Regions from separate parts of the Homo sapiens genome. Here region 1 is reported to be linked to region 2. The links are microRNA targets in miRTarBase. Many come from high-throughput screens and were not tested one by one. Region 2 holds a microRNA gene; the other region holds the end of a gene's coding sequence.

What was found. Region 2 holds the annotated microRNA hsa-miR-4299 (GCUGGUGACAUGAGAGGC, at 2,241-2,258, opposite strand). A microRNA usually pairs through its seed, bases 2 to 8, with sites in the 3' UTR of a target mRNA and lowers its output. Matches are read on the target gene's strand: a 7mer-m8 pairs with bases 2 to 8, a 7mer-A1 pairs with bases 2 to 7 and ends in A, and an 8mer does both.
Region 1: the mRNA of IRS2 is a reported target of hsa-miR-4299. Seed matches in the 3' UTR shown: 7mer-m8 at 2,727-2,733.

Annotation. Positions count from the first base shown.
Region 1 is chr13:109,753,554-109,756,553 of GRCh38, forward strand. IRS2 (insulin receptor substrate 2) reads right to left here. Exons shown (of 2, transcript NM_003749.3): 2 at 1-2,755. The coding sequence ends at 2,751. Among named protein-coding and RNA genes, the nearest start is that of LINC00676, 27 kb to the left of the region's middle.
Region 2 is chr11:11,654,421-11,657,652 of GRCh38, forward strand. It overlaps MIR4299 (microRNA 4299), which reads right to left and starts at 2,302; the gene lies at 2,231-2,302.

The DNA.
Region 1 (3,000 bases), not on the chromosome of region 2:
GTTAATATTTGTTATGTATTTAGAATGGCATCCAGCACGTCATAAGGACTCTGTTTTGTAGAGTACATCGAATGTTCTGTTTTGTTATATAACACATTTACTTTTCATAAATGTTGTTATCTGGCAGGTATTTTTTGGCTTCCAGAATAAAAGTTTTAAAATTAAAAGGGGTATCCAAGTATTTTTAGGAGCCTAGTATTTCCTCACTTACTCCCAAACTCTAAAAGTAGATTGGCTTTATGTTAAACAGAGAATTCGTACAGAAAAAATCTTCAGGACTGTATTCATTTCATAAATAATGTACTTTATTTTATTGCATATGGCTATTAAGGAGGGCATCCATGATCAATACAGACTAAATACAATGCACTATTCTAGTCCAGTTTATTCTCGTCTCCAGCAGCATCACATTGACCCCTATATACAGCGTGTACAGTGGAAGACAGAGCAAGATAAGTTAAGTCTCTTGTCATATCACAATAGCAAGAAATATATTTAACATCTTGATATCCAGAAACAATACGTACCCAAAAAGAAAACACTGTTTAATAACTGTTAAAGTTTATATAGCAAAAAATATTTTAAATTTAAGGTAAGTCAGGCAAAATGTACAAAGACCCAATATACATTGTGAAGTTTTAGCAAACATAACATTTATACATTTTGGTTCCATTCTGTAAACTAAATTAAAAATGTAAATATTGCATATGCCTTTTTGTGAAATGTACAGGATAGAGGAAAATTTAGCATATTATCATCTGTGTATTTTGCTTGTTTTAAGCTGCAGTATGAACACGAACCATCTGTATAGTGTCATGACTACTCTACGGATAGAGGGCGAGTTAAATATGCGTCAATACACTGCTTTCAGCAGGGTCCATATTCAGTCCCTATCGTACCTGGGGGGAGTTACAAAGCAAATACCACCCATTGATGCCTATTCCCAAAACTAAATAAAAACTTCAGGATTTTTATACATCTTAATAAAGTATATCATACACTGAAATTGACCTTCCAGCTAACATTATATGGCCTATGCACTGCTGTGATGTATAATTTCAGAAAAGTAAAACCTTAAAAATGTTCAGGGAGATCACTTTACATTCAACTTTGTCTTGCAATACAATCCTCTGTTCTAAAGTTCAGCACGGAAGCAGGAAGACTTTTGCATTGCCATTAAATATATTTTTAAGACATTGAATTTTTTGGTCTTCCTCTAAAAAAGCCTCATTTTATTAATGCATTATTCTATAGCGATAGATATCTATTATATATTTATATATATTTTTCTAAAAACAAAACAAAACAAAACCAACAACTTACATCTCCAATGAATTAGTGTAACCTCTCCATGACTATCAGAGAAGATAGGCACTGGGGAAGCCCCCACGGGAGGAGAGGTCGACAGCCCTCCAATCAAGTGTCGAGGGAGCAGAAAACGGCAGAACATTCTGCCGGTCAAGTTCAGCAGTTTTAGGTAACATCTGCGAGAACTGCCACACACTGGTATTTTCAGAATACTGAAAACATAAAACAAGGGTAGTCTTGTCCGGAATTTTTTCGACAAGTAACATGTACTGCGAGATTGCTTTTCTTCTTTTTCTTTTTCCATCAATAACATAGGGGCTGGAATGCCTCTTTTTATCAGTTTCTTTCTTTCCTTTTTTTTTTTTCTTTTTGTTTTTTTTGTTCAGGGCAGCCTCACTGGTTGACATAATAACATTTTATTAAAGATAATACGTTTTTTAAAAATCAAATCTGCCAAACCCGGACCACCCTGGAATTGCTAGCACGCCTACAGGGATTTTTGGTTACAGAAAGGCATGCCCAAGATTCAGGAGAGCAGAGACATCTGAGCTTGTAAATAGAATAAAAGGCGTTTGCAATGTGAAGTACCTACATAAACATCTACATCGAGAAGATTAAACAAGTCTGTTAAAGGTAAAAAGAGATATTCATCCCCTTCCCAAAGCCCTTCCCTCCCACCTCCCACTACCCAATACAGTTGATTTTCAAAAGTAGGTTGCTTCAGTTACATATAATAATTATTATTTAGTAATCCGTCTTCAAAGTCCAATCCCAAATTTCACTTCCATTGAGAAATGTCAGTCCCACACTGGGCTCGGTGTGGACGTAAACATCGCAGGTACCTGCACTGGAATCCAACAAGCAGCTGTCTACTTGGACCATTTCAATAAGGCCGAGGACCGCGCTCCAGACACACAGCGCAGGGGCTACTACAGGAGGTCCTGTGGGACCCCCGCCACGGAAATCCGGCTTTACCTTGAACTGAGGTAGGACTGTGGTCGTTTTGAGTGTAAGCCAGTAAATACCAGATTTTACCACTTCCATAGGTACGGGTGCACTCTCCTAGCATGCTGAGGGTTATATCTGCTTTGCCAAAAGGAAAAGAAGAAGAAATTAAAAGACACTGGCCACAATTTAAGAAGGCCAATGAAAACATCCAATTTTCTTGAGAATAACTTCTTCAGCTAATTTTGTTAAAACAAAACAAAACAAAACGCAAACAGCACAATGATGAATGCCCCATCCGGGAACAAGGGAAAGAGGCAGGTGACCTTGCCTTGTTGGTGCCTCATCTAACAGAGTCCACAGATGTTTCCAAACACAGTCATTGCTCAGATCCAAAAGAAAACTGCAAGCAGCTTCGGGCTGAAACAGTGCTGAGCGTCTTCTTTTAATGATACTCTCTGACATGTGACATCCTGGTGATAAAGCCAGACAGATCTTCACTCTGAAAAAGAAAGGAGGGAAGTTAGCAGAGACCCTCAGGAGAACAGAGCAATCTCTGGAGTTCCAGAAAGGGCCCCTCTAACCCACAGCTAGGACCTGGGTCATTTTCATAAACTGATGACCTTTGAGAAAGAAACATGTATTCATTCTGTTTTCCAGAGGTGAGTTCAGTGGGAAAACTCTGAGTTTTCCTGGAAGCAGAGCTGTTAGGTTCATGGTGAGTTGTCTAGACAGTTAGGTTCGTAT
Region 2 (3,232 bases):
CAAGAAAAAGATTCTGAAGGCTTAGACTAGTGAGGAATAACAGAAGCCAACAGACAGACTTAAGATATACTTAGGAGATAGAAATGACAGGATTTATTGATTTTTTAAAAAGATGAGGTGTAAGAATCACTTGAACCCAGGAGTTTGAGACCAGCCTAGGCAACATAGCAAGAACCCCTCTCTACAAAAAAAAAAAAAACAAACCAAAAAGACATTGAATTAGCCAGGCAAGGCGGTGTGCATCTGTAGTCCAAGCTACTTAGCAGACTGAGGTGGGTGGATCTCTTGAGCCCAGGAGGTCAAGGTTGCAGTGAATTATGATAGCACCACTGCACTCCAGCCTGGACAACAGAGAGAGATTCTGTCTCAAAAAAAAAAAAAAAAAAAAAACAACAACAAAATGAAGAAATAAAGGATAAGACTTACATTTTTGGCTTGAGCAAGTGGGTGGAGAGTCTTGCCATTTACTAAAATGAATAGGTAAACTATGAGAGGAGCTGGTTGAAGATACTACAGGGGAAAGAAAATCAAGAGTTCTGTTCTGGCATTGAAAACACATGAATATAAAGATATGAACAACAGACATTGAGGACCACAAGAAGGAGGAGGGAGTGAGGGCAGCAAGGGCAGGTAGAAAGTTGGATATGTGTATCTAAAGGTCAAAGGAGAGATTGATCTGGATATATAAATTTAGACAACATCAGCATGCAGATGATATCTTGGGCCATGAAAATAAATCATTTAGGAAGAGAGTGCAGACAGAATAAGCACTGTAAAAAAAAAAAAAAAGCAATATGTAGACATTGGTACAGGAAGAGCACCTATAAAAGAGACTGGGATGAAATTGTCAGAGATCTAGAGAAAGGAAGAAAACCAAAGGTGGACTGTCAAATAAAGGAGTGGCCACTGGGATACAACTCAAGTGAGAAACTGAGCAAAATGAGAGTATAAATTGTCCATTGGACTTGGCAACCTGGAGATTGTTGGTAACCTTGACACAAGAAGTTTGGGTGAAGTGTTAAAGTCAGAGACCCAACTCGAGAGTCTGAAAACTAATTAAAGGCTTAAACCATGGAACAAGTATGTAAACAGCTATTTTGAGATGTTAAACTGTGAAGCGATGCAGAGAAATGGGCAGTAGCTGAAGAGGGATGAAGGAATCAAAAAAGGACTTTTAGGCTTAAGGGAATGTCAATCGTGTTTGTGAACTGAAGAGACTAGCCCTAGAGAAGAGGGTAGGATTGGTAATTTAGGATGAATAGGAGATAGCCAGAGGAGTAAAACCTTGAGAAGGTAAGAAAGGACAGGATCTAGAACTCCAGGAGTATCCAGCTCCAGGAACTGGGGTGGGAACAGCATATTTTCACCTTTATACCAGAAGGACCAGAAGCAGAAGACCCAAATGAACTCAGATGTAAGCTAGGGGCATTTATGGCTGATGGTTCTAATTTTTTTAATTAAATACAATTGAAACAGGATAATTAGATCAGAGTGAAGGGTGCAGGAATGGAGTAGGGAATTTGAGAAGATAGGCAAAGGTAGGAAATAGCATCCTAAATGATGGAAAAGCAAGTTTATTAACTACAGTTTGAATACCAAGTGGTGGGTTGAGATTATGCATTTAAAAAGAAGCTTCTCAGTTTGTGTGATTTTCTCCAGCAACATACAGTTGCTCAAATTCTGGCAGGTAATGGGTTGAGTACATTCAGCTTGGAGTTTTGCCAAGTGAGTATGACAGCTATAGAGAGAGACACAGAATGACTGAACAAGTGATGAAAACTGTGGACCATATAAAGAATGCTCGACAGAAGGAACATGTTGACAAAAGGGCAGGTTCTCACTCGATTTCCAGTCTCTGGATCTGGGCTTCCCTTCCCTTCCATCTCCCCACAACCACACACACTGCATTTGGATACATGTATGCCTCTCTCTATTCTAACTGGAGGTTGGAAGAGAGATTTAATCAGCTCCCAGCCCAGCTTCTGGAGTGAAGTCTTGGTCTCCTCTGACTTACAGATGCAGATTCAGCATACAGTACTGAGCACCTCTGAACCCATCCCCGTGCCCAGATTGAAACTTCATGTGGTACCCTGGTTCAAAGAACAGGGCTATCATCACCTAGAACCCCTTTCTCAGACCTATGCTTCCATAAAGTAGAGACCCTCAAACTAGTGGCTAGAGTTCTCCTGCCTGCCACCAACCTTCTCACATCAGGGCCTCCCCACCATGGTCCTTTTTCTGCCTCTCATGTCACCAGCTCTCTCTAAAGGAGAAAACACTGTAACATGATTGGTCAGAACCCAAACAATCAATGGACCATATTTTACTAATAGGCTTGATCAGTTTTGTAGGTGGTGTTTTGTTTCCTATTTGACCATTGTTCCTTGTGGGCACCTTCCTTAGAGAATAATCTAGTGGGAAGAAGGGTTGGCATCTAGGCAGGCCTGTGTTCCTGGCCATCATGTCATTATAGCAGAACCCAAAGCTCACTTTGACTCCTCAACCACCCAACAACCTACCAGGATTCCTGGTTAAATGCACCGTAAATTCCCCATGAATTAGCCCTACCCTCTTAATGATATCCCCAAACCTTCATTTTGACACCCACTACAACATTACTTATTATAAATCGAGTTGGGTCCCCAAAAAAGATATGTTGAAGTCCTAACCCCCAATACCTCAGAATGTGACCTTATTTGGAAATTGGGTCATTGCAGATGTAATTTCTTAAAACAAGTCATACTGGAGTAGGGTAGGCCCTTAGTCCAATATGGTTGGTGTCCTTGTGAGAAGAGAAGAGCTGCAGAGACTCAGGTACACAAGGGAAGAATACCATGTGACAACCGAGGCAGAGACTGAGGTATGCAGCTCCAAGCCAAGGAATGCCAAGGATTGCTGGCAAAGCACCAGAAGCTAGGAAGAGGCAAAGAAAGATTCTCTCCTACAGGATCAGAAGGAACATGATCCTGCTATCACCTCAATTTTGGATTTCTGCCTCCAGAACTATGAGACAGTAAATATCTGTTGGTTTAAGTCACCGAGTTTGTGTTGTGTTCCAGGAAGGGTCTACATGACATGTGGCCATGACATCTATCCAGCTCAGGAAACACGGAGTGCTCCAGCCAGCCCAGGAGGAAAGCACCTGTTTCCTTACTAGCAGCGCAAGAAAGAATTCTGAAAGAGAGCAAGAACGGCTCACATTGAGCCATCTGCATAGTGACCCAGGGAAGCC